Regions from separate parts of the Homo sapiens genome. Here regions 2 and 3 are each linked to region 1. Evidence: fine-mapped expression QTL. A gene starts in region 1. Each other region holds a variant in brackets. All regions are shown on one strand. Distances are from middle to middle. Region 1 holds the start of DICER1 (dicer 1, ribonuclease III). Region 2 overlaps CLMN (calmin). Region 3 has its middle 38 kb from the start of C14orf132.

Region 1 (10,648 bases):
TACATTAATTTTATCAAATGCTAGTTATGTACCATGAGAGTTTAAGAAACTCCTTTTTTTTCTCAAAACCTCAAGAGGCAAACACCACTACGACAGTTTATAGACAAGGAAGCTGAGACTCAAGAGACGTTGCCATATGCCCAGTGCTCATCGGCTATAAAGTCGAAGAATCAGGATTTGAACCCTGGTCTCTCTGACGCCAAACACTTGCTCTTAAGCATCCCTACAAAGCTATGATAAAACATTAATATTTAACTCTGCAAAGTGGAAAGAACTTAAAATACCATGAATCAGAGCAACTGACAGTGATGGCTGGGCAGCAGGATGCATAAGAGGCGGACAGGCTGTGAGTTCATCATGTTAATCTCACCTCCCAGGATGTTACCAAAAGAGGAAAGACAGAAATCCTGCAATCTCGAAACATCTCAGAGGACTAAATACGACTAAATACGACTACTACCTTTCTTTTTCCCTTCAAACAGGGTCATTTAACTTCTTAATCAAAGAACCTTCCTACATCATGTCAAAGATCAGTTTTTAAACTAAGAGTCTTCTCTCATTATTCAAGTTCTCTAAGTACAACCGGTTTGTTTTCTTAAAATTCTGAACTGGTTAACAGACCTCATTTTCTAATCCTCAAGAATTGTTCAAATGTGTTGTTAAAACCCCTGCTTTATGGCATACATTGAGCTGTCAAAGAACGAACAAGCACAACAGAGTTAGTCTGTGCCAACAAGGAGAAAGTCTGCAATACAGTTAAACTCCAATTTTGACGGCGATTTTCTCCCACGATTCTTAACACTTCCCTCAGTCTGCAATGTTTCTGTGCACATAATCATACGTACCTCACAAAGCAAAAAGGACCAAGTAGCATGATTTGTCCAAAAGCAGAATAGTAATAATCTTTTTAAAAGCCTTAATATGCAAGCAATATTCTTCCCCACAAAACTGTGTTAGCTTCTAAATACTTCAAAAAGTATTATAAATTAACTTACTCACTCAACAAATCGGAGTGTCTCCTATATGTCAAGCACCATGTCTGGTAATGAACATGCATGAAGAATCTAATCCTTACTATTCCATAAACCTTAACACAACCAAGAACATGTAATGCTGTTATAAGCCTAAAAAACAAAAAGAAAAAACTCTAAGGCCAAACTTAAGCCTGTCATGTCTTACTTCTAGTAACAGTCTTACTGACATCCTCAGAGAATGTTTTGTAGCATCTTCTTAGTCACTTATTTAAAATGCATATTGAGGTAACTGCATGTTAAAGGAGTACCAACAATTCATTGACAATTTTAGATGAGGAAGCCATTTTGCACTCAGAATTATTTTAACAAAGGCTTTATTACATAACTGAAAATGTCAATTTCACCAGCTACATCTCAAAAATAATCTTTTTCTTTCTGTATTAATTCATCAAGTATACACCACGATACAACCAGTCTTACTTTTTAGACCAACACACGTTCCTAAAGACTGGGTGAGAGGGCTGGGCACGGTGGCTCACACCTGTAATCCCAGCACTTTGGGAGGCCGAGACGGGAGGATCACGAGGTCAGGAGATCAAGACCATCCTGGCTAAACACGGTGAAACCTCATCTCTACTAAAAATACAAAAAATTAGCAGGGTGTGGTGGCGGGCACCTGTAGTCCCAGCTACTCGGGAGGCTGAGGCAGGAGAATGGCATGAGCCCAGGAGGCGGAGCTTGCCGTGAGCTGAGATCGCACCACTGCACTCCAGCCTGGGCAACGTAGTGAGACTCCGTCTCAAAAAAAAAAAAAAGACTGGGTGAGAATTCCTATTTGGAAAATCCTCACTGCCCATGTTGTCCACAGAGCTTATTCCTGAATGGATTGTTATTTAGCATCTGTCAACAGCCTGAATGAGACAACTGATATTCGAGGGACACCACCCAAAAGAAATTAATGAATCAAACCACTGGAACAGTGAACACCTGTATTACTAAAGCTTTTCTATTATGCCTGAGGCTTTTATCCAGTTTCTCTAAAATGGCATGTGAAAAAATGTTTCTCTATCGTTTGTAAAATGTAAAACATTTTCTCCATATATTGCTAATGTTATTTAATGTAATAATCCAAAAGATTGATTATTCTTCATACAAGAGAAAAATCTGCTTCAAATTGGTATGCTTCCTTTCATTAATCAACGTGAGTTACATGCAGCACTCACCTTTCCTTGCCCCAATCATTCATCTAATTCTCTGCCTCCACATTCTATACTACCAACCTTTACCATTTTCATAGTACTCTAATACTTTCCTATTATAAGACCATTTCAAATCCTTTCTCAAAATAGACATCATAAACTATTAAATAAATGTACTAATACTAGAGTCTTAGCAGAAATTTGGAAGAAGTGAAAACTAGCCATCAAAAAATCAAAAGGTCCAAGCCCCACAGGCTAAGGAGGTGGAATACCAAGAAAATAATGCTGCCTCAGAAGACTAGTCATTTGGCAAGTCGTAAATTGCAAAGAAACCTGTGAATAAGAGCGAGTATAATACATACACTGGGCTTTCAGGATGAACTAAGCTCTTGAATGTCCAAAAAGCACAGCAAAAGGTAAACAAAATAAGTCACTTGGCTCCAACTTTCTCTTTATACAAATTAAAGACCTCACCAATATCTTCCTCTGGCATTCAATAAAGCACATCACTCCATGTTTGATCAGTTTTTTGAATACCTGCCAGACACTATGATTGGAACCAAGATCGTAAAAAGGAGTCGACCCTGGGCTTCAGAGAGATTACAGATTTTACTGACAGAGGAGTTGTTTGTAGGAAATTATCACTGCTTGGAGGAACCCTGAGAAAACTCATACTGCAATAAATTCTGAGTCTAGTCTAGTGTTTTGAAGATCAAGAAACAATGTGACCACTTTGAGGTATATGTCTAAAAGAAGGGAAAGCATGGACTCCAATGAATTATTTGTATACCTACGTTCACAGCACCATTATTCACAGTAGCCAAAAGATAGAAGCTACCCAAGTGGCCATGGACAGATGAATGGATAAACAAAATGCAGTATATTCATACAATGAAATACCATTCAGCTTTTCCAAGGAAGGGAATTCTGACATCTAAATCATCACAGATGAGCCGTGGAGACACTATGCTGGGTAAAATAAGCCAGACACAAAAGAACAAATACTGTATGACTCTACTTATTTTGAGGTTTCTCCAGTAGTCAGTGACAGGAAGTAGAATGGTGGTTCTCTGGCATTGAAGGTAGGATGGAATCAGGAGTTAGTGTTAATGAGGACAGTTTGAGTTGGGAAAGATGAAAAAGTATGGAGATGGATGCTGGTAATGACTAAAAACAATGTAAATGTACTGTATGCCAGCTAGTTGTACACTTAAAATGGTTCAACGTTGTGTTATGTATATTTTACCATGCCAAAAAAAAAAAAAAACAACTATCTGAAATATTCAAATAACCATTCATTCACCTGAACATTTAAGGTTAGACACAGCTTCATTCATTCCACAAGTCTTAACTGAGGAGTCACTACACGTGATGCAGCCCTGAAATCCATTTGGAACAGTAATGCAATACAAAAAGCATGCCTCCAAAGATTCTGAAACCAAACCACAATTCGATCTCGGCTCTGCCACTTCGAGATTCCTAACTTGGGGTAATAATCACTGACTCTTAGTTTCCTTGCCTATAAAACAAGGACAATATCGAGTTGATCGCAGGGTCACAGTGAGGATTAGAAGAGAATGTACGTAGAACCTGAAACATCTTGGCGCATAACAAGGAGGCACTCAATAACACGTTTCCCTTATCTCCTTTGCCATGAGCAAGTGGAAACGTGACCATGACATGGTAGGGTCGCAAGTGAGAGACTGTCTACGAAATATCTACTTTCTCAAATGAAACAAGCACCTCACATGTCAGATAGTGGTAGAGAATAAAACATCCCAACGCCATAAAAGTCACCCTCTCTAGAAGATAGCACTACAAGTACTGTACAACCCACTATATGACAAAATCACTGTCAAATAAGAATCATGAGCCACATCAAAAGACAATGTCTTCTAAAACCAAGACAATAAAGCTCAATAATAGCAAAACAACCTAGCTACCCAACTCACACATTGAGCCACGGGCAAAATACAGCAGAGCAGTCAGGGCTTACCCTTCAAACATGAGATGGAAGCATAAAAAGTAAAGCAGGCCCTTACTAAAAAGGATTGTAGGAAAATGTCTTTTCTCCCCAAATTAAAATGGACTAACTGTTCTCTTCTTAAAACAGCATTTTGGTGCCGTGAGTAAATCTATAAACCTATGTTACCATGATCAATGTTTATAGTGACCATGTTAAAAGCAATCTTTAGTTTTTTGTTTTTTTATCTATTGAGTTTTATGGAATATGCCCTAAAATGAAGTTTTGAAATAATTGTGTATGTATGTGCATGTACACAGCACATATTACATATAATACACACGTGCCACAGGTAGCTTTAAAGTAGACTTTGCAAAATAAACTGGCTATTCCAGAACCTAATTTCCAAAGATATCAATAATATTGAAAATTACTATTCTCTAGGACCTGGCTTATCCCGAACCCATCTTTTAATAAACTGAGTTTTTTGGTGAGGATGTATATTTTTATTTAGAAAACTTAACGTTTACACCAATACATATTCAATATAGCTAACCTGTTTTAACAGCACATTTTTAACAATATTTTCCGAGTTGCTTAAATCCTAACCTGAGTCCTTTTCCACTGTTTGAAAACAAGCACCACGAAGACACCTGACAATCAGGATTGTAAAGATTCAGAATATTCGAAGACAGAAGCATAGGCGTCCAAGTGATCCTCTTTCATCAGATGAATGTTTTTAAAACCTGAAAGTCCTAAGAACACTTACTTATCGTGTAGACCAGTAACGTGTCCCTTTAACCACAACTCTCTCCACAAAAGCACGGAGTTAACACTACACAAATAGGACCCTCCAACTCATCTCCACGTTTCCGCGGATCTTCAGGTTCCTAAGGACACACTCAGTGGTTTGCTGGCTCTGACCTCCAGGCAGAGCCATCAGGGCAACTCAGCTTTTCTGGACAATCTACAGAAATCTGATGTGCTAACTTAAAACATACACTGATTTCCCCAAAATCAAAAACCCTGAAGAAAGGGTCCTCCGCAGGGTCTAGGCATTTTGGCACAAAAACATCTGAGGGGAGAGGCAAAAGAATGGCCTCGGCCCCTGCCCGCCCCCCAGGGCCCCAATCTGGTCCCCTGACAGTAATCACACAGGACCCTCCCGGGAGGGACCGAGAGCCCAGCTTCGTCCCCTCCGGGCGCGGCACAGCGGCCCCATCAGAGGAGGGCCCCAGGGTGCTCCGGCAGGTCAGGCGCGCGTCTCCACCTCCGCTGCTCCCGCGCCACCTTAGCGCGCGTGACGGGACCTGTCAAGAGCCCCAGGCCTCGCCAGGCCGGGGAGTGGACAGGCGCCGGCATCCCCCACCACGCCACGGCGGCCCGGAAAGTCTCCCAGGGCTGCCTCGCGGGGAGGCGCCGGGGTCCGGGCCCAGGAGCAGAGCCGAGGCGGGCAGACGCCGGGTCCACAGGCCGCGCTGTGCGGGACGACGAGGCAGGCGAGGCCGCGCCCTTCGTCAGCGCCCGCCAGGCCCGGACGCGCGGCTCGGGGCCATGGCCGGCACGCGGGCCTCCGCGCGGAGGCGGGAGCGCGGCCAGGCGACCCGCTCCCCGCCCCGGACACAAAGCTGCTCCGCGGGAGCCCGCCTCACCTGCAGCACGGGGCGCCGCGGGCCTTCGAGAACCATCGGACCCCGCTCCGGCGCGCGCGTCACAGCCCAGGCCTCCCGGAGCCGCCCGGCGCCGCCGCCCCCGCCGCCATTTCCTCGCGCTCGCCGTCGCCTCGTCCCCGCTGTCAGGTTACTCCATTCACCTGGGCCTGCAGCAGCCTGCGCCGCGCCTCCGCCTCGACCCCTCCCGCCGGCGCCTGCGGAGACTGCGCAGCGCCCGGCTGGCCGGCAGCCAGCGCACGGCCCGCGGCAACGGCGCACAGCCGCTTGGAGAATCCCACTGGCTCCCGCACCGCCCCTCCGCGCCCCCACGCTCCGCTCGCCCCGTGGCGGCATGAGAGCGAGCCTGTGATTGGACAGGGCCTGGCGGTGAAAGGTTAATCCCGGCCCCCCAGCCACTCAGGAGCAGGGAGACAGCGGGCGCGCGCGCGGAGGCCGGAGAGGCGTTTGCGGCCCAGCGCCTGGACTGGACCTTGGCGTTGGGCCGCAGTTGCCCGGAGTTTTTGGGGCCCCCGGGAACCCGCGCGCCGAGGCCGGCTAAGTTTGGCAGACTCTCTGAGCTCTCGGAATTCGACTGCCTCCATTGTTGCTCCTTCTGGCACCCACAGACCGTAACGTGGCCGTAATTGTTTCCCGGAGAGCTTAGCTTCCCTCTGAGCACCTCCCTCCCCTTTTTAAAGTACCTTCCCACTCGCCTGCGTTTCCTCGCGTTAGTGGTGCAGGGGCCTCCGCATTTGGGGAAATAACAAACACCCACTTCCGCCCCCCACCCCAACCGGGATCCCCAGATAATGAGAAATAGATGGTGGCCCTCTGTTTGTAAGCTGTTCATTTGCATAGGTCGGAACCGCGCACCACAGCTTGAAGCTAGGAATTAAAATATCGGTGGGAATTAAATAAGTGGCTGGCTTAAAGAACATCTTCTTAATTTATCCCCAAATGTAGACATCTCTTCAGTGGACCCCCTGATAGGCCGGTTTGCTCCAGGTGAGGTGTGCTCACAGCAACTGCAACCGTGTTTCTTTCAGACCATGGGCGTGAGCAGAACCTACTATGCGCCCCTGCTGCCTGGGCTGTGCTGTTCAGTTTGGGGCCACCAGCCCCACATGGCTCCTGAGCACTTAAAGTATGGCTAGTCGGAATCGAGATATATGCATTCTTTACCAAATAATGTTCAAAAAATTGTTACATGTTGAAGTGATAAACTTTTTCCATATATTGGGATAAAAGTTTTATTTGTTTATTTTTTAGTGTGGGTTCTACAGAATTTTAAATGTCACCTGTGGCCTGCATTATATTGCCATTGGGCAGGCTGATCTAGGGCTTGCATGCCTGTGATCCTTAGGTGCACCCTGTGAGGTAGGTGCTTTAACTGTGTGCACCCTGTGAGGTAGGTGCTTTAACTGTGTGCACATTGTGAGGTAGGTGCTGAAACTGCTTCCTGTTTTTTTTTTTTTTTTCTTTTGAGACGGAGTCTCACTCTGTCTCCAGGCTGGAGTGCAGTGGTGCGACCTGGGCTTACTGCAATCTCCGCCTCCCAGGTTCAAGTGATTCTCCTGCCTCAGCCTCCCGAGTAGCTGGGATTACAGGGGCACGCCACCACACCCAGCTAATTTTTGTATTTTTAGAAGAGACGGGGTTTCACCATGTTGGCCATGATGGTCTCGATTTCTGACCTTGTCATCCGTCCGCCTTGGCCTCCCAAAGTGCTGGGATTACGGGCGTGAGCCACCGTACCCAGCCTGCTTCCTGTTTTAACAGACGAAGAAATGGAATAACTTCCAACAAGTAAGTAGCCAGTAAGTGAACAACTGAGATTTGAACCCACGTAGTCTGGCTTTGAGGCTGGTGTGCTCAGTCATTACTGTGCTAAAATTTTGATAATATATTTACTATGAATTGGCTTAAGGTTTCACTTGAAAGTAGCATATTTATGGGCAAAATTAGGAAGTAGGATGCTCCTGGCAGACCCATGTATTTAAAAAAGTAGTTTCTTATATGTCAAGCACGGTGAGCATGTCATACCTTTAAGACCCCAGTCATACATATAAGGTTTTCTTTGTAGCTAGGAATTAAAATATCGGTGGGCGTTAAATAAGTGTCTGGCTTAAAGAACATCGTCTTAACTTATCCCCAAATGTAGATATCTCTTCGGTGGACTCCCTGATAAGCCTTTATGAGAAGGACAGCATCTCAGTATGGGGGTAGGCACTGGACTCTATTGGCAGTGGAAATTTGTGGGCTGGTACAACTTCAGCCCCTCTGGTTGCCCTCTTGCAATCTGTCAAGACTAGCCAGGCTGCTTGTTCCATCAGCAGGTATACCTGATTTTTTTATTTTTTTAATTTTATGTATTTGTTTTTTTCTTTTTTGAGGCAGAGTTTCACTCTTGTCGCCCAGGCTGGAGTGCAATGGCGCAATCTCGTCTCACTGCAACCTCTGCCTCCTAGGTTCAAGCGATTCTTCTGCCTCAGCCTCCCAAGTAGCTGGGTTACAGGCATGTGCCACCACGCCCGGCTAATTTTTGTATTTTCAGTAGAGACGGGGTTTCACCATGTTGGCCAGGCTGGTCTCGAACTCCTGACCTGCCTCGGCTTCCCAAAGTGGTGGGATTACAGGCATGAGCCACTGCGCCTGGCCGGTTTGTCTGATTTTTATCAATTTCAGTTTTTATTTTTAAAATAAATAGTATATCCATATTATTCATTTATCAGAAAGCCTATAAAAGATACACAGTGGAAAAAGATGTCCCTCACACCTGTCCTAGTGTCACAAATAGGTGACCACTGTTTCCTGCTCATTCTTCAAAATGTTTATGTATATATGAGCCAAGATATGCCCTTTGTGTTCCTTGTTTAGAAAAATGCCGGCATGCCATACATATTTACTCCACCTTGTGTTTTTTACTTAATGTATCCGGGGGGCATGTTTATAGTAACACATAGAGAGCTCCTTGCTGTTTTTTCAACCCCCTTAACATATTATTGCAGGTATATCCATACCATAATTTACCAATTCTCTATTGATGGACATTTAGACTTTAAGTCTTTTGGAATTAAAAGTTGATCCATTTGGAATCGATTTAATATATAGGGTGAGGTATAGATCCAAATTAATTTTTTTGTCCAGGTGGCTACACAGTCATTTATTGAGCAGTTCACTTCTGGACTCTGTATCCGTTCTAATGGTCTATCTATTCATGCTCCACTTGCTGGTTTGTTTTAAATCCAGAGACATAAAATCTTGTAAGGGATATTGTTTCACACTTTGTTTGGATCACTAGAAATCTTAAAGCCTATATTTCAGCCCGTGTTAAGCAACGGTATAGTACCATGTGGCATGCATTTTCTATGGGCTAATTTTTATTTTCCCTTAGCCCCTATTATTTCCACAATTTGGTTTATTTTTTGTAGAACAAGCCAGGATTTAAATATACCTTTAAGACTCTCTGTTTGCAAGTAACAGAAACCAAGCTGAACTAGCGCAACCAAAAAGGGAGAATTTACCATAATGATATAGGTGCTTCTCACAAAAGCCCAGAACAGGAATACAGCCACATCTTAGCAAAAACTAGAACCAGTCATTGAAAAGCTTCCAGGAACCCAAAAGGTACTCTCTGTGCCCCTTGTGATTGTTTTCTATGTATCTCTGCTAACTTGTTCTCTCTGCTTTTCCATCTACATGGGAGAATATAGTCACTCCCATATTGGACTGGGCTGTCAGTTCAGTGAGGAGTCTGAGCCCAAAGAAGGAAGGTGGGGCAGCAGCCCTGCAAGGCCAGACAGCTGATTACATACAGGAGAACTACACAAAGAAAAACTATATTGAGGCTAATGGGAGCCAGATTTTTCCCTGTTGGAGAAGGGAGTTACAAGTACAGAAATAAGAAAAGCAAGAAGTTTGTGTGATTGGATTGGAATTGGAGATATTCATGTAAAGTCATGGTTCTTAATACATGTAGATATAAAAATAAATATAAATGTAAAAGTGTGTATCTATATATTTTGTGAGATTCTGAAATATATATTTGGTCTTTGACCTCATTTTCTGGTGTACAACTCCTAAATTTCTTACAAACACCGAAGTGATGTCTTTTGTATGCTAATGAGTTGGCTCGTGGCTGGGAGCCCCTAGGTAGCTTTAGGATGGGGTTGGTCATCAGAAAGACCAAGGCAGGATCAGAGGGTTGGACCTTCAGCCTATCACCAACTTCTTGGAGAAGAGAAGGGTTGAAGGTCAGGTTATCACCAGTGGCCAATAGTTTAATCAGTCATCCCTTATGTAATGAAGCCTGCATAAAAACCCATGAGGACAGGGTTGGAGAGCTTCTAGATAGCTGAACACCAGGAGGTTCCTGGGAGGGTGGTGCACCCAGGGAAGGCATGAAAGGTCTGAGCCCCTTCTCCCACACCTCATCCTATTTATCTTTTCATCTGTATTGTTTGTAATATCTTTTGTAAACATAAGTGTTTGCTTGAGTTCAGTGAGCTGCTCTAGCAAATTAATCTAACCCAAGAGGGGGTCATGGCAACCACAACTTGAAGCCTGTCGGAAGTTCTGGAGGCCCAGACTTGGGACTGGTCAGTGGCCAGGGACAGAGTGGGGCAGTTGTTGGGATGTGTTGGGGAGTGAGCCTCAACCTGTGGGATCTGATGCTATCTCCAGGTTAGAAGGGAATTGGAGGACACCCAGTTGGTGTCTGCTGCAGAATCGATTGCTTGCTTGGTGTGTGGGGAAACGCCCCCCGACATTTGGTCACTGAAGTCTTCTTTGTTAATTGTTGAGGGTGAGGGAATAGGGTGTGTAATTTTTCCACAGTCAGTTATATACACACACATGTCT
Region 2 (8,000 bases), 30 kb after region 1:
ATAGGCAGCATCTTATGGTGCAATTTCAAGGGCAGAGGGCAGGTGTCCCCTGCACCACATTCCCTCCCCACAGCTACCGCCCCTACCCCAGGGACATTCTACACAAACACACCAGCATTTGGCTTAAGGGATCCTTGTTGGAATGCAAACGGCTCCGATTCTGAGTAGAATTTCAGAAGCCTTTTTGAGTCGTTACTCGGGGAAGGGGAAAAGATGAGGGATGGGAAGATCTAGTCCTGTACAGCTATTTATTCCTGCAGTTGAACTTTTGAATTTAAAAGAAATTCCCTTAGGAAACTGCCTCAGATGCTGACGTAATTTAAGGAGACCAATTTCCTTCTAACAGCCCTAGGAAGCAGATTTCCCAGGTTCTACTTCAAACATTCATCTGAAACCTTTAAGATTCAGACTACCTTCTGTCTGACCAAACTCTTCCCAAAGGCACCTTTCTCAGATACTAAAGCCAAGAAGCACTGCCCTAAGCTTTGGGCTGATATACAGAGGTACACTTGCTTTAAGCAAATAGGCCACTTATTGAGATAAATAAAAACTACCTTCGTAACCTTTGGATTTTTAAACTTAGAAAGGACTTTTAAAAGAAGTCTTCCCACTTCCAACCCAGAGAGGTAAATTCAAGGCATCTGCAGGTGAGCCACAGCTAGGACGTGGGTTCTCCATACCCATACCAGTGTTGGCCTGCTTTGGACAATGTCAACTCTCCAGACAACAGGCACTCCCAGAGTTTCCTTTAAAAAAGTGTCTAAATCCTTGCATGACATTTAGCAATACTGGCATTCTGGCACAGCATGGGCTTGTAGAGAATACACACCTATTGATTTTTGCTGGGGCTAAAGGAAGTGGTAGCTATTGCAAACAGAATACAAGTATCAAATGATATTTTGCTATTTTGTTTTTTGTAACAATGCAAAAATCACTACTTTTAAGCTTAAAATACAGGAAAAATAATAATCCCTGCCTCAGAGACCAACCAGTTATGAATTCATCCAAGTAATTCGTGGTCTCTACTTCTCCATTTTAATTACACTGCCCTCAGGCCTTCTCTACTTTTCTTTTTGAAGGAGAAAGCCCAATTTCCTACTCTGTGAAGTACGTGTTAGAGGTGCAGAGATGAGCAGCTGGGGGCAGGATGTATAGTTAATTGGAGGCCCTGAAGAACTGTCTTTGATGTTGGACACTGAGATTTTACTGCAAAAGACCCTTTCAAGGCGGCCATTTTGGTTGCAAATTTGCAACTGCAGTGAAGTTTAGAGTGTTTGAAAATAACAGTCCTATGTTCCCAGTTCTGCTACTTACTAGTTCACGCTATGACCTTATTTTTCTGTCCTGTGCTTTAGCTTCCTTTCCGAAATAAACACCTCCCACGATTGTTCTAAGGGTCAAGTGAGTTAATGAGTAAACAATGGCTTAAACTTCCTCTTGCAAAAAGGCCTGAGTTAGATTTGAGACAGGGTAGCTCAGAAAAAAGTAATGGATTGGAGAGAGGTTGGAAGAAGCTATGGTACACTAAGGGTTAGGGAAAGAGGTATAGTCAACGCTTGCTTCAAGAGGAAGGAAATAGAGAAAAGGGGGCTGCTGGGCATCCTACAACTTCATAAACTTTCAAGAAAAGTATTTTTCATCCAACAAATATGTGCTGAATGCCTATAATGCACAGAAGCTCAGAAGTTAGTTTGCCAAGATCACCCAGAGATCTGGTGACAGAGCTGGGACTCCAATCTAAATCTGGCTGACTCCCAAACCTGACTTCTTTCTCTAGCCCACAATACCTCCCAGAGAAGAAGGCAGTGATTAAAATGAAAACAAAAAAAAGGGTTCCTTTAAAGAGAACACTGCTAGATGAAGCTATTCTTGACATCTGAGTGTCAGGGATTTAAACAAATTAGCAGTGCGATTGAGGCCGTGGATTGTTGAGGCATGTGTATATTTAAAAACAACTTGGTCAAACAGTACAAAATACTGGTTGTCTTTTTCCCATAGACAAGAATGTTTTTTGGCATGTTGCTCCAGCCCTGGCTGGGAGGAACTGCTTGCTTGATGTGTTCTCATCAAGGTTCTCAGAACAAGTTCTAAACACAAAGAAGCCAGTATTCCCAGCATTGTGGGGTCTGGCAACTGCAGAACACTCAGCTCAGAAACTCTGATAACTTTTGTGGGCTCTTGGGGAACCAGCAGCTCTGAGTCTCCAGGCTTTTGACCCACACCTGACCAAGCTCACCCCATGCCCTGTCTCACACACAATGGTAGAGAAGTGACAAGACCTGAAGGTCCTGTAGGACTCTTAAGAAAAATCAGAGTGAAGGCCAGGCACAGTGGTTCATGCCTATAATCCCAGCATTTTGGTAGGCCAAGGCAGGAGGATCACTTGAGGCCAGGAGTTCGAGACCAGCCTGAGCAACAGTGAGACCTGTATCTATAAAAGATAAAAAAATTAGGTGGGCGTGGTGGCATGCACCTGTACTACCAGCTACTTGGGAGGCTGAGGCAGGAGGATTGCCTGAGCCCAGGAGTTTCAGGCTGCAGTGAGCTGTGATCACACCACTGTACTCCAGCCTCGGTGACAGAGTAAGATGCTGTCTCTTAAAAAAAAAATCAGAGTGAAGAGGGCAGGTGCTCACGTGGAGCCCAAAGATACAGGTGTCTGCACACGATGGAAATGGAACCTGTGCAAAGTCCATGCAAAGTCTGTGCACCGGGCTCACTTCCATGAGCTGCTGACTGCTGTTTTCCAAGGAAATGCCTGATGAGAGCAAGGCGCAAGATCTGTGGAGCTCAAGGGGATGCTTGTGTCTCATGTTTGGTTCTCCCACGCTGGCTGTTAGGGGAAAAGAGCCATAGCAATTTTCAGCACAGAAGCACAATAATGCCCACTCCAGCTCCCAGCCTTCCACCACCCAACCCAGGTCCTGGACCTTGTCATTAGGGCAGCCCCCTCATCAGTTGGATGGGACAGAACAACCTGCTATGTGGTGATGGTTCCAGATGGCAGCTGCTGGCCCAAGACGTTAAATCTTCCCCAAATGCTGTGTCAGCAGTGATTATGCAATGTCGGGGAAGGAGAAATAACACAGCTGGGCCTCACAGGGCTTTGTGCAGTCTCATTTCCTGGCTGAGAAGGTCCCGAGATACCAGGCTGACTGGAAGCTCCCACACAGCCCATTTCTGGGACCTGAGGGCGCAAGGCTCCACAGAGGAATACCGGCGGGGAATGCAGTGGAGACCCCCAGGAAGGTGTCTCCAAGCAGAAGGGAGAGAGAGGCCG[T/C]GTCTCAAAACTCCAGAGGCTTCTGAAGTCCTTCTGGAGAGTTAAGAAAATCGGAGCTCATGTGAAAGCATTCTTGTCATACAACTGCCTTCCAATGGCATGACCACGGAAGGAGAACAGCTCCTCACCAAAGCAGCCATGATGGATTCTGACATTTTCGTAAGACACATCTGTACTTGCTAATTCTGACTTTTGTTGGAGAGATGAGCTCCATGGTGTTCTGAGTCCCTAGCGATGGTGGGTAGGGAGGTTAGCTTCAGCAGCTGAGGCTGTGGTTTTGTAGTAAACTTAACTGGGAATGAAGATGGCTATCTGGAGGTCATCAACTAGCAGGGCGACTAGTCGTTTCCTCTTTCTAATCTTCAGTTTTTCATCTCTTAAATGAGGCACTGAACGCTTACATAATTCCTGAGGTTTTCGAACAGTCTGTGACTTACAGAGATCAACAACACAGGCTGCCCCCAGTGCCTCTGCCTTCCCTCTGTTCCATCCTGATAAAGAGCAGGCATGCACTGCATGGGAAGAGGGTGGGGGGAACTATGCTGAACCTCAGAAATGGAGACGCCCATGTTCTGGGTGGCTGCCCGAGGGGCAGCAAGAGTGTCCTGCTTCTGAGCCTTGGTGGGAGAACATCTCCCCACAAAGGTCAGGTCTGACCAGGAAGCCCCGACCACCTGATCATCAACTATGGCAAGATACAAACTTCGACGAGGCAATGTTGGCCACGTTCAACAGAGAATCCGCGCTGTTTGTTTGCTGGCAAACACCTGTGTGGACTACTTGTTTCTTTATTTTTGAGACAGCGTCTCGCTCTGTCACTCAGGTGGAGTAAAATAGCAGGATCATAGCTCACAGTAACCTCAAAGTCATGGGCTCAAACAATTCTCCTGCCTCATCCTCCTGAGTAGCTGGGACTATAAGTGTATGCCACCACTAATTTAAATTTAACTTTTTGTAGAGATGGAGTCTTGCTATGTTGTGCAGGCTGGTCTTGAATTCCTGGCCTCAAGCGATCCTCCTGCCTTGGCCTCCCAAAGGGCTGGGATTATAGGTGTGAGCCACTACTGTGCCTAGCCAGTTTTCTGTTTCTTAAGTGAAGCAAGGGTGGTAAAGAAAACCTAGAACCCAGACCACCACATAGACTATATCTTTGGGGAGGCAGGAGATCTAAGATCATTTACTGACAATAGGCAGCAAAACCAGGGGGAAGGAAGGAAGGTAATAACTAATCATGGCATTCAAGCAGAGCTTAGCCATGCTATGTATCCCTCTCCTGCACTTGGCACAGCATTACACAAAATCACTTAGCAGACCACAGCTCAACAGGATGGATGTTGCTGCAGTCCCAGCTGGACTCAGGGCACGTTCACAAACCAGTCAGAGCAGCAAGCCCCCTAAGCAACCTGTGAGATAACTCAAATGGGGTTTATGGATCAAGATGGTATACTGAACACATGAGCCTGTTTCTTCCCTCATGAAACCCCATGAAAATAGGAGCAGAGGAATGAAAGTTATATTAATACAACCATGAACACAGAATACAGAAGAGAACAGTAAGCAAGAGCTAGCAACCTATTTATGCAGGAATGGAACTGATGGAAAAGTGAGCAGGGAGGGGGATCCTAAAACCACATGCCTGCAGAGGGGAGGCCACAGAGTGGTCAGCAGAGATGCCCTGTGGCCTCCAGGAGAGGCTTGGGGATTGGAATAGGAGGGATGGGGTGAGACATGGGGCTGAAGACCAGGGCATTTATTGGCTCTGAGGTCCCCTGTCCTTCCCATGCAGCCAGATGACCACTGTGCTCCTACTCCATGGAGAAATCAGAGCAGCTCCAACTCAGGGACACCAGGCACAGCAAAGGTTGAAGCAACTTAATGAAAGTCTAAATACTCACGGGTGATGAGGCTGCCTGCTCAGCGGTCAGGACTCGGGCACACTGAGTATAGACCAGGGTCTCTGGATATGGTCCTACAGTTGTGCATTGCACAGAGGCACTTGGCTAAAGAGGGCAATTAGGAGTTAAAATCTAGCCTTTTCATTGTTCCTCGAGCATTGTCCAAGCTCAGAGCTGGGTATGTCTGGAGGAAGGGGCAAAAGGTGTCCTTTGCCAGTCAAGCCAAGTGCTCATGGGGACTTCTGCCCAGATGGGACACCATTTTTGAAACCACATGAGTACTCAGCATAGGCTAAAAGCCCTGTGTATGCCCGTTTCCCAGGAAGGAGAGTAGTGGGAATATCTCTCAAGAAACAGAATGAGCCCCAGAGAAAACACGTGCAAATACTGACAGGCAGTGTTCTCCAATGATGAGTCCAGGTGCCCACCTGGTGACCCTAGTGGAAAAGCTCACCAGTTGGCACACACAACTTCCAATCAGCTTTTGGATGCCTCACTCTTAAAACATGAACAGATCCATAGGATCACCATATATTTGAGAAAAATTCACAACGTGAAAGATAGAGACTGAGACCACCAAAATAAAGAGAACTCAGAGAAAATGAGGGCAACACAGGGAGCAGAAAAGACTTCCCCTCAGACCACAATCATTAACGTCCACAGAGAGACAAAATCTGCATCCACGCATCAAGAGCAGGACACTGTAAAACAAAGACAGGATAATAACCAAAGGTTTTATTAACTTGGAAAATAAAAATTCAATAAAACATTCAGATTGGGAAGATAAAAATGAATAATTCTTCCTGAAAGCAGATCAGAAACATAGACGAAAAATAGAAAAGATAAAAAATATTAGAGCATCAGCCTGGGTGTAGGGGAGGGTCCAACATTGAAATAATAGGTGGTCCAGAAAGAAAGAATGTAAATAATCACAAGAAAATTTAAGAAATTTCCCATGAAGGCCCAGCACAAGGTTTAACACCCGGGATACAACACCATCATGACAGTTCAGAACACCAAGAATAAAGAGATCTTAAATGTTTCCAGGAAGGGTGGATAAAAAAACCTAAGTCACATATAAAGGTACGGGAATCAGAATGGCATCAGAAATCTCAACCAGCACGCTTGGGAGGGGCTAGGGGAGGGTATTATTTTCCACCTGTCATTCTATGCTCAGCCACATTTCTGTTAAGGGCAGAATACAGACATCTTAAGTCATGCAAAAATCTCAAAATATTTACAACCATATTTACTTCCCATGTTCTCTTCCTCAGGAAGTTATTAAAGAATGTGCCACACCAAAAAAAAAAAAAAAGTAAAGAGAGAGAATAGCAAATTAATGGGGACATTTGGAGGAGAAAGGACATGTAACCATAACACACTGCTGGGCTTGGGAGTCAACAATCCTTAAGTGCTCCAGGTAATGTCAACACCTAATAGAAATGTACTAAATGATGTGATCTAGCTATACTGGAAAACCAAAGCACGGTATGGTAAGAGTGAAATCCTCCTCTACTGTGACAGCAAGCCAGTAGATGTTTCTAAATTAAAAAATAAAGTGTAAGCACGTTATGTAGAAATGCAAACATAAGAGAGTTGAAAGTGGTTACTTCTAAGCAGCGAGACTTAGGGGACTGCTAGTTCTTGTTAAAAGCCTTATTGTATTTCTTTTAATTTAAAAAAAATTTACAAGCAATGGGGTGGTTTGTCCTGCAGACTTCCACATCCATTTTCTATATCCAGCTTCTTCCATAGAAGCCTATACTCAAATGAGATTTTTTTTTCCTTTGCAAAATATCAGTTGACTGCCAACCTGAACCAAATGACTTTCAGGCATCTTGCCAGTAGATGTTTTAAACAATATTACAAGTTGTAATAGGTGAGAGAAGTATCTTGCAGAGGTTTTTCTGAACAAGGTCTAGACCCATAAAATGAAATGATTCACATTTGGGTTGGCTCTTCCCAGGCTCTTCGAGCATCTAATTTAGGCAAGGACTGCATGGTGCCCAGAGTTATAAACTATCACATAATCTTTATTATCTGTACCTTTGAGCTTTCATTGATGCCAGGGAGCTCATTAATTAGCTCATTTTCCATGGGGCTCTTGGCCTTCCAGATGGAATCACTCCAAGCTCCCAGCAGCTTTCTGGTTGGAAGGCTGAAATTCTTTCAGGAGGGGAGACAGACTATAATCAGACTGGTTTAGAGGCCAGATTTTGGCTGTCATCGACTCAGATGTGCTATGTAAATTCTTCTGGCCATGCTGGAATTCTGTAAACTTGAAACCCACTGCTTGAAATGAGCAAGTCCTTGGCTAGCAAAGAAAGAAACGTGATTCCTGGAGTAAGAGCGACGCTGGTATGTCAAATGACAAGCTGTTGCAGCTGTCAAGGGTATTTCAGAAGGAATTGGGGATGAGCTTGAAGGTGAGTAAGAATTCCTCATGGGAAAAATACAAGAACAAAACAAATGTCGATAGTTGGTCTAAACTTTTTGGTTTTGCTTGAATGTGGACATTTTAATCTAGTCATTTTATCTTTTTCTCAGGACATTGGTGTGCCCAGTGGAAGTTTCCTACAAGGGGTGACAGCTCTGGACAGGGCATCAGGTGCCTGTGTGCTCACTGCAAGTCTGCCCCTGGTCGGCTATATGATCTTGGTCAAGCTGCTCTGTCTCTCTGGGTCCAGCTAGACAAGATGCTCACTGAGTCCCCTCCTGACTCATTTGTGATTTTATAAGGGTTGCCTGGTACATGCTTTCTGAAGGGGAGAGCAAGGGGAGGAGGAACCAATGCAGAGACTCACCACGGACCTGAGTCTTGGCAG
Region 3 (10,648 bases), 840 kb after region 1:
GATGTTCTGAAATCTAGATATGGTTACTGAATCTTTTGTATCCCCAAACGTGTACATGGGCAAGCCTCTAAAAAAGCCATATACTCTTTTAAAATTATTCTTTATTTAACTTTTATTTTAAGTTCAGGGCTACACATGCAGGTTTGTTACATAGGTAAACTTTTGCCATGGTTTTTTTTTTTAACAGATTATTTAATCACCCAGCTATTAAGCCTAATACCCATTAGTTATTTCTCCTGATCCTCTCTCTCCTCCTACCTCCTTCCTCCAATAGTCCCAAGTGTGTGTTGTTCCCCTCTATGCGTTCATGTGTTCTCATCATTTAGCTCCCACTTATAAGTGAGAACATGCACTGTTTGGTTTTCTGTTCCTGTGTTAGTTTGCTGAAGATAATGGCTTCCAGCTCTATCCATGCCCCTGTAAAGGACATGATCTAATTCCTTTTTATGGCTGCATAGTATTCCGTGGTGTATATGTAGCACATTTTCTTTATCTAGTGTATCATTGATGGGCATTTGAGTTGATTTCATGGTGCTGCAATGAGCATATGTGTGTATGTATCTTTATAATAGAATGATTTATATTCCTTTGGGTATATACCCAGTAATGGGATTGCTGAGTCAAATGGTATTTCTATTTCTAGGTCTTTGAGGAATAGCCTGTATTACACAATTGTTGAACTAACTTACACTCCCACCAACAGTGTATAAGTATTCCTTTTTCTCTGCAAACTCACCAGCATCTGCTATTTTTTAATTTTTTAATAGTAGCCATTCTGGCTGGTGTGAGATGGTATCTCATTGTGGTGTTGATTTGCATTTCTCTAATGAACAGTAATATTGATTTTTTTCCATATGACTGTTGGCCACATGTATGTCTTCTTTTGAAAAGGGTCTGTTCTGTTCATGTCCTTGGCCCACTTTTTAATGGGGTTTTTTTTTTCTTGTAAATTTGTTTAAGTTCCTTATAGATGCTAGATATTAGACCTTTGTCAGATGCATAGTTTGCAAAATTTTTCTCCCATTCTGTAGACTGTCTTTTTACTCTGTTGATAGTTTCCTTTTCTGTGGAGAAGCTCTTCAGTTTAATTACATCCCATGTGTCAATTTTTGCTTCTGTTGCAATTGCTTCTGGGTCTTTGTCATGAACTCTTTGCCTGCTCCTATGTCCAGAATGGTATTGCCTAGGTTGTCTTCCAGAGTTTTTATGGTTTTGGGTTTTACATTTAAGTCTTTAATCCATCTCGAGTTGATTTTTGTATATGGTGTAAGGAAGGTGTTTAGTTTCAATCTTCTGCATATGGCTAGCCAGTTCTCCCAGCACCATTTATTGAATAGGGAATCCTTTCCCCATTGCTTGTTTTTGTCAGGTTTGTTGAAGATCAGATAGTTGTGAGTGTGTGGTCTTATTTCTGGATCTCTATTCTGTTCCACTGGTCTATGCATCTGTTTTTGTACCAGTACTATGCTGTTTTAATTACTGTAACCCTGTAATATAATTTGAAGTTGGGTACTATGATGCCTCCAGCTTTGTTCTTTCTGCTTAGGATTGCCTTGACTTTTTGGGCTCCTTTTTAGTTCTATATGAATTTTAAAACAGTTTTTTTTTCTAGTTCTGTGACGAATGTCAATGGTAGTTTAATAGGAATAGCATTGAATCTATAAATTTCTCTGGGCGGTATGGCCATTTTAACGATATTGATTCTTTCTATCCATGAGCATGGAATATTTTTTCCATTTGTTAGTGTCATCTCTGATTTCTTTGAGCAGTGTTTTATAGGTCTCCTTGTAGATATCTTTCACCACTCTGGTTAGCTGTATTCCTAGGTATTTTATTTTTGTGTGGCAATTTTGAATGAGAGTTTTTTCCTGATTTGGCTCTAAGTTTGACTGTTGTTGGTGTATAGGAATGCTAGTGATTTTAGAACATTGATTTTTACATCCTGAGAAAATGCCATATATTTTTAAGGATCACCTTCCAAGAAAAATCATTAGTTGTCAAGATAGGAGACTTTTCTTCATAATGAATATAAATGTCACATGTTGGCATAGTGAAAGTGTTTGGAGAAATGCTGTTGTTAAAATAGACTTGGTGAGGCTGAGACTTTGAAATCACCTCCCTTTAAGTAAAAGAAAATAGACAATTCAAAATAGAAGCAATAAAGATTCTATCTATTGCATCCATTTAACTCAATGTCCCAGGTAATTGTTGAATGTCTGCCCTCTGGAAGGCACTGGGCTAAGCTTGAGTGATTTATGTGTAGCTTCTTCAGTAGAGCATTCAAAGTCCTTTGTGTTCTTGTTCAACCTAAGGTTCGATACTTTCCTCCAGTCACATCTACAATGATGCTTAAAGTGCAGCCACACAGGACCCTGGGGTGGTCCCAGAATGTGTTGTCTGCCTCTCACATGCCGCCTTGTTGATGAGAGTCCTTCTAGCATCCCCCTTCTCCACATCAGGAGCTGCTACTGAGATCCCAACCTGTAGCTCAAATCTTCTTTCCATGTCAACTGTTTGCTTGCCCCTGTCCCTAGCAAAAGCTAACCCTTCCTTCTCTAGGCTCCTACAGCACTTTGTCCAGTGCCAACCATAGTCTTTCTGTAGATTTTGACAATTGCTCTCTCCAACGTCCTATGTGGCCACAAGAGAGTGAGGTGAGCCCTTCACATTGTGCAATGTGCAGCCAATAGGCATTGTAACAAAAGTTTGTGAATAAACAAATGAGTAGATCTGGAAAGCATTTTGTAGTTTACAAAATGTTTTCGCAGACTTGACGCAATTTAATCCTCACACCAGCCCTGAAGGCTTGAAATTGTTATGAGAGAGAAAGAGACAGAGAGAGAGAGAAAGGAGACAGAGAGTAAAACAGGTCCCTGCCCTCAAAAGGTTTACAAGCTGATGAGGGAGACAGAGATATTGTAAGCACTGGACAGTAATAGAAACCTAGACAAGATACTGCAGAATCAGATTTGGGGGTCAAGAGGTAAAAAAGGTGAATTCCAACTTAAGGGGAAAATAAATAATATTCATTTTGGTTTTTCTATGAGTGAGAGAAATCCTAGCAATAACTTGAACACACCACACAGGGGCAGAAGAAGCTCATTATCATTAGGATTTAATATTCCTCCATGAGTGCGTGCCTGCTCATAATTCTACATTGAGTGGAGATGCCAAAAGAAATGAGGATCCTCACATTTATTGAGTGCCTACTGTATGCCAGAAAGTTTACATGGAGAGAGTTGGTTAATCCTTTAGCACAAGTAATCCTGTAAGGGATTCTTATCTGTCCTCCCCATCTCCTTTCCAAATTCTCTCCACTTCCTTTCCTCCCCCACCGTGATGTGACTTGTCCATTGTCACACATGTGGCCCAAAGTGGAGCTGGCGTTCAAATTCATGTCAGATTCCAAAGTCTAACTGCATTTCTTTCATTTCTTTTACTTTTTTTACTTTTTCTTTTTCACACTTTTAAAATCACACCAATAATACAAAAATACATTCTCATCATTAATAAAGACATTGCAGATAAACACATGTCACCCTGACCCTCACCTAATCCCACCACATGCCCACATATACAAATGTTTCTCTCAGTTTGGTGTATCTCTTTCCAGATGTTTGTCCATGCACTTGCAAACATGTAGATATTTATTTAAACAAAAATGAGTTCACATAGAATCATTATTTCACTGTTGTGATATACTTATTGTCTTAAAATATATCTTATAATTACATACTATGTTTAAAATTTCATGATGAGCAGAATTTGTTTTTGCAAAATAATCCATTAGAGTGGATGAAACTAATGAGGTCTTTGATTGATTATTGTTGTAGCTGGGTGATGGGGTTCATTATACTGCAATCTGCCATAATACAGTTTTAAAAAATACTCATAGACTTCCATTCTCCACTTAGGAGATAGGCAAATGGAAAAAAAAATCGCTTCCATCTTTACAACAACAAATATGCTGGACAACCTGTAAATCTTGCACCTGTTAAAGAACTGAGGTCACAGGGCAACCAACTAATGTGAAATCTAAGGAAATACAGGATCCCCCAAGAAGAAAGGGGAGGTGAGCCCTTGCTTACCTGTGGTAAATCTCACCAGACA[C/T]TGGTAAGAAAAATCAGCTAAAAATGCTAACAAATTGCTAAAGGACAAATACAGACAGGTGAGAGGATATAGAACTACTGGGAATCACAAGCACAAGGGGAATATGTAGCTGCTAGCTAGCTGTTCTCCAAGCTAGATGATTACAAGAAAGATGGGGTCAGAGCATGAGTGCTGAGAGGCATCACTGATGGTGCTGACCCAGGAGAAAGGCACAGTAGTCACTGTGAGAAAAACATTAAACCCTACCTGGATCCTTTTTTCTATGTCTCCTACAGAACAAATGGCTTATACCCCTGGGGAAAGACAATACACACTCTGTCACACTTAGCACATTGATGGAAACCCATTCTAGCTGGGAGAAGGAACATAAAAATACATTCTACCTTTGCAGAAGGTGCAAGATCACTGTCCCCTGACCAGACCCACAGTTGGAAGTGTGCGATACTGCTGAGAAGGCCCCATCTCCAAGACCCAGGGACACAGTTCTTGCCTCTAAAACTGAGGCTTAGCCAGAACAGGAGAGGATGCCCCAGCTCTGCCTCTCTTTAGAGGCAGAAATGACTTCATGGCCAATGACTTGTGTGATCACACAGCCCATGCTTAGAAGGGTCCTGCATTTGGTTTAATACTCTACTATTGCCATCCTGACAGTTTTAATACTTTCTGAGCAAGGAGCCCTTCATTTTTATTTTTCACCTGCAAACTCTGTAGCACATCCTGTCAACAGGCTACAACAGCGTCAAGTAACAAATAACAGCAGTTTCCAGCTGGGAAAGAGACAAGAGCATGAAGAGAGACTCTTTCTCTCTTTCTCTCTCTGTCTCTCCAGGCATGGCACAAAGGAAAACTTAAAGTCAAGGGTGAAGCAGATATTGACTAAAAAAACCACTCTTTAAGAGCAGCCCATATGCTAGATATGACTTCATTGGTGAATTCTACCAAACATTCAAGGAAGAAATATGAATTACACACAAACTCTTCCAGAATGTAGAAGAGGAGGAAAGACTTCCCAGCTCATTTTCTGAGGCCAGCATTACACAGGTACCAAAACCATCCAAAGAAATTCAACACACACACACACACACACACACACACACACACACACACACACACACCTAGAGAAGAATATCACTCACGGATACAGATACAAAAAATTCTTCAGCAAAAATATTAGCAAATTGTGCCATATATATGTACGTATATGGTAATACATTATTACTAAGTGGGATCTTTTGCAGGAAGTTCAGGCCATTTCAACATCCAAAAATCAATCAATGTAATTAATCACATCAACAGACTAAAAATGAAAAACCATGTAACCCTCTCTATAGATGCAGAAAAAAATAATTTAATACAATTCAACAAGTCTTAAAAAATATTGAATAGAAAGAAACTTTCTTAACTCAAGAAAGGATACGTACCAAAAAAAAAAAAAAGCCACAGTTAATATCATACTTAAAATAGAAGGCTAAATATTTTCCCCAAAGATCAACAACAAGGCTGGGATGCCCCTCCTCACCATGCTTATTTAACATCATACTGGAGTTCCTAGCTAGTTTAATAATGTAATAAATAAATGTCTCTACTTGCAGACAATGTGAGTTTCTATGTAGAAAATCCCAAAGAATCTACCCAAAAAGCTACCAGAACTACTAATTTTCACAAGGTCATAGGATTAAAGGTCAACATTTAAAAATCAATCAGGGGGTGGGGTCAAGATGGCTGACTAGAAGCAGCAATGGTCGGAGGCTCCCACCGAGAAGAAACAAAACAGCATGCAAATCCTACACCTGCAACCAAGATATTCAGGTTCTATCATCAGGACTAACTAGGTGGTTGGCATGACCCACGGAGAGCAAAGAGAAGCAGGATGGTGCATCAGCCTACCTGAGAGCCACACGGGACAAGGGGAGCACCCCCATGCCCAGCCAAAGGAGGCGGTGAGTGAGTGTGCTACCCAGCCTGAGAAATTGTGCTTTTTCCACAGATCTGTGCAACCCACAGATCAGAAGTTTCCACTCATGAGCCTACGCCACCAGGGCCTTGGGTCCCAACCACAGAGCCACACAGATTCTCAACAGCCTCTCAGCTGAAATCTGCTTAAGACTACAGAGTTCCCAGCAGGAGGGGCAGCCATCATCACTGTGCCTGCCTGTTGTCTAAGTCATCTGAGCTCCCTAGGGGAGGGGCAGCAACCATCACTGTGGTTACCAGCTGCCAGCTGCCTAAGACAACTGAGATTCCTGAGAAAGGGGCAGCCATCATCACTGTGGCTGCCAGCTGGCTAAGAAAGTTGAGCTCCCCAGGGAAGAGACGGCAGACATCACTCCGGCTGCTAGCTGCCTAAGACACTGAACTCCTGGGGAGGGGGGACGGCAGCAGCCATCACTATAGCTCCAGGCTGCATTTCTCCCCTGCTAGAGCCAGGGAGACTGCATGGCTTGGTCCCGAGAGGTATTCCCCACAGCATAGCACACCAGCTATGACAGACTATGGCCAGACTGCCTCTTTAGGCTGGACCCTGACTCATCCCACCTCACTGGGTGGGGCCTCCCTGTAGGAACTCCAGTAACTCCAGCCAGGGGCTTAGGGGCAAAACTCTGATCTCCCTGGACCTGAGCCCCTATGGGGAGGGGTGGCCATGGTCTCTGTTGACCCGCAGACTTAGTCTCTCTGCTTGCTAGCTCTGAGGAATCTGGGCAGCCCAGATTAGTGGGTTTCCCCTTAGTGCAGCACACCCCCTCCACCAAGAGACAGCCAAAGTGCTTCATTAAATGGGTCCTGATTCCCATGCCCCCCAGTTGGGTGAGAGCTCCCAACAGGGGTCGCCAGACACCCTATACAGGAGCACTCCTACTGCCATCAGGTCAGTGCCCCTTGAAGTCAGAGATCCCAGTAGAAGGAGCAGGCACCCATCTTTGCTGTTCTCCAGCTTCCTCCAGTGACATCTCCAGGTGGGGGAAGGACCCAGATGAATAAGGCCTCAGCAAACTGCAGCAGCCCTACAGAAGAGGGATCTGACTGTTGAAATAAAAACAAGCAAGCAGAAAACAACAACAAGAGCTTCAACAAAAAAGTCCCCACAGAAAACTCGTCCAAAGGTCAGCAGCCTCAAAGATTGAAGCTAGACAATCTCATGAAGATGAGGAAGAATCAACAATAAAATGCTGAAAACTCAAAAGGCCAGGGTGCCTCTTCTCCAAATGATTGCAACAGCTCTCCAGCAGGGGCACAGAACTGGACGGGGAATGAGATGGACAAATTGACAGAAGTAGCCTTCAGAAGGTGGGTAGTAACAAAATTCACTGAGATAAAGGAGCATATTCTAACCCAATGCAAAGAAGCTAAGACCCATGACAAGAGGTTACAGGAGCTGTTAACTAGAATAACCAGCTTAGAGAGGAACATAAATGACCTGATGGAGTTGAAAAACACAGCACAAGAAATTTATGATCCAAATATAAGTATCAGTAGCTGAATCAATCAAGTCAAACAAAGAATATCAGAGCTTGAAGACTATGCTGCTGAATTAAGGGAGGCAGGAAAAATTAGAGAAAAAAGAATGAAAAGAAATGAACAAAACTTCCCAAAACAATGGGACTATGTAAAAAGACTAAACCTACGACTGATTGGAGTACCTGAAAGAGATGGGGATAATGCAACCAAGTTGGAAACACACTTCAGGATATCATCCAGGAGAACTTCCCCAACCTAGCAAGACAGGCCAATATTCAAATTCAGGAAATATAGAGAACCCCAGTAAGATACTCCATGAGAAGATTAACTCCAAGACACAAAATTATCAGATTCTCCAAGGTTGAAATGCAGGAAAAAAATGTTAAGGGCAGCCAGAGAGAAAGGCTGGATCACCTACAAAAGGAAGCGGTGGACCTCTCAGCAGAAACCCTACAAACCAGAAAAGAGTGGGGTCAATATTCAAAATTCTTAAAGAAAATAATTTTCAACCCAGAATTTCATATCCAGCCAAACTAAGCTTCATAAGCAAAGGAGAAATAAAATACTTTTCAGACAAGCAAATGCTGAGGGAACTTGTCACCATAAGGCCTGTCTTGCAAGAGCTCCTGAAGGAAGCAATAAATATGGAAAGGAAGAACTGGTACCAGCCACTGCAAAAACACACTGAAATACTAAGACCAATGACACTATGAAGAAACTGCATCCACTAGTGTGCAAAATAACCAGCTAGCATCATGATGACAGGATCAAATTCACACATAACAATATTAACCTTAAATGTAAATGGGCTAAATGCCCCAACTGAAAGACACAGATTGGCAAATTGGATAAAGAGTCAAGACCAATTGGTGTGCTGTATTCAAGAGACCCATCTCATGTGCAAAGACACTCATAGGCTCAAAATAAAGGGATGGAGGAAAATTTACCAAGTAAATGGAAAGCAGAAAAAAGCAGAGGTTGCAATCCTAGTTTCTGACAAAACAGACTTTAAACAAACAAGGATCAAAAAAGACAAAAAGGGCATTACATAATGGAAAAGAGATCAATTCAACATGAAGAACCAACTATCCTAAATATATATGAACCTAATACAGGAGTATCCAGATTGATAAAACAAGTTCTTAGAGACCTACAAAGAGACTTAAACTCCCACACAATAATAGTGGGAGACTTTAACACCTCACTGTCGATATATTAGACAGATCATTGAGAGAGAAAATTAAGGATATTCATGACTTGAACTCAGCTTTGGATAAGTGAACCTGATAGATATCTACAGAACTCTCCACCCCAAAACAACAGAATATACATTCTTCTCACTGCTACATGGCACTTACTGTAAAATCGATCACATAATTCAAAGTAAAACACTCCTCAGCAAATGCAAAAGAACAAAAATCATAATAAACAGTATCACAGAACACAGTGCAATCAAATTAGAACTCAAGATTATGAAACCCACTCAAAACCACACAACTACATGGAAATTGAACAACCTGCTCCTGAATGACTCCTGGGTAAATAATGAGATTAAAGCAGACTTCAAGAAGTTCTTTGAAACCAATGAGAACAAAGAGAAAATGTACCAGAGTATCTGGGAAGCAGCTAAACCAGTGTTAAGAGGGAAATTTATAGCACTAAATGCCCACATCAGAAAGCTAGAAAGATCTCAGATCGACACCCTAACATCACAACTAAAACAACTAGAGAAGCAAGAGCAAACAAATCCCAAAGCTAGCAGGAGACAAGAAATAACTAAGATCAGAGCAGAACTGAAGGAGATAGAGACAGGAAAAATCATTCAAAAACTCAATGAATCCAGGAGCTTGTTTTTTGAAAAAAATAATAAAATAGATGGCTAGCTAGACTAATAAAGAAGAAAAGAGAGAAGAATCAAATAGACACAATAAAAAATGATAAAGGGGATATCACCATTGACCCTGCAGAAATACAAACTACCATCCAAGAATACTATAAACACCTCTACCCAAATAAACTAGAAAATCTAGAAGAAATGGATAAATTCCTGGATGCATACACCTTCCCAAGACTAAATCAGAAATAAGTTGAATCCTTGAATAGACCAATAACCAGTCCTCAAGTTGAGGCAGTAATAAATAGCCTACCAACTAAAAAAAGCCCGGGACCAGATGGATTCACAGCTGAATTCTACCAGAGGTACAAAGAAGAGCTGGTACCATTCCTTTTGAAACTATTCTAAGCAATTGAAAAGGAGGGACTTCTCCCTAATTCATTTTATAAGGCCAGCGTCATCCTGATCCCCAAACCTGGCAGAGACACAGCAAAAGAAGAAAACTTCAGGTCAATATCCCTGATAAACATTGATGCAAAAATCCTCAATAAAACACTGGCAAACTGAGTCCAGCAGCACATCAAAAAGCTTATTCACCACAATCAAGTCAGCTTCATCCCTGGGATGCAAGCCTCATTCAACATACACAAATCAATAAATGTAATTCATCGCATAAACAGAACTAATGACAAAAATCACATGATCATCTCAATAGATGCAGAAAAGATCTTCGATGAAATTCAACATCCCTTTATGTTAAAAACTCTCAATAAACTAGGCATTGATGGATCATATTTCAAAATAATAAGAGCCACTTATGACAAAACCACAACCAATATCATACCAAATGAGCAAAAGCTGGAAGAATTTCCTCTGGAAATCGGCAGAAGACAAGGACGCCCCCTCTCTCAACCTATTCAACCTAGTATTGGAAGTTCTGGCCAGGGCAATCAGGCAAAAGGTAGAAATAAAAGGTATTCAAATCGGAAGAGAGGAAGTCAAATTGTCTCTGTTTGCAGATGACATAATCCTATAACTAGAAAACCCCATTGTCTCAGCCCAAAAGCTCTTTAAGCCAATAAGCAACTTCAGCAAAGTCTCAAGATACAAAATCAATGTGGAAAAATTACAAACATTCCTATACACCAACAATAGACAAGTGGAGAGACAAATCATGAATGAACTCTCATTCACAATTGCTACAAAGATAATAAAATATCTAGGAATTCAGCTAAAAAGGAATGTGAA

The links. PIP is the estimated chance that this variant, and not a neighbour inherited with it, causes the effect.
Region 2: its variant is fine-mapped to the expression of DICER1 in whole blood (TOPMed, PIP above 0.99).
Region 3: its variant is fine-mapped to the expression of DICER1 in sun-exposed skin (GTEx, PIP 0.96).

Annotation. Positions count from the first base shown.
Region 1 is chr14:95,151,442-95,162,089 of GRCh38, forward strand. It overlaps DICER1 (dicer 1, ribonuclease III), which reads right to left and starts at 6,088. Exons shown (of 27, transcript NM_177438.3): 1 at 5,789-6,088. It overlaps DICER1-AS1 (DICER1 antisense RNA 1), which reads left to right and starts at 6,247. Exons shown (of 4, transcript NR_015415.1): 1 at 6,247-6,417; 2 at 6,752-6,793; 3 at 7,435-7,594. RefSeq lists silencers at 5,379-5,738, 5,799-6,258 and enhancers at 6,349-6,448, 6,489-6,558.
Region 2 is chr14:95,182,508-95,190,507 of GRCh38, forward strand. CLMN (calmin) reads right to left here. Exons shown (of 13, transcript NM_024734.4): 13 at 1-8,000. Among named protein-coding and RNA genes, the nearest start is that of DICER1-AS1, 29 kb to the left of the region's middle. The variant T/C (reference allele first, on the strand shown) is at 3,281.
Region 3 is chr14:95,995,743-96,006,390 of GRCh38, forward strand. No RefSeq gene overlaps it. Among named protein-coding and RNA genes, the nearest start is that of C14orf132, 38 kb to the right of the region's middle. RefSeq lists an enhancer at 5,814-6,315. The variant C/T (reference allele first, on the strand shown) is at 4,111.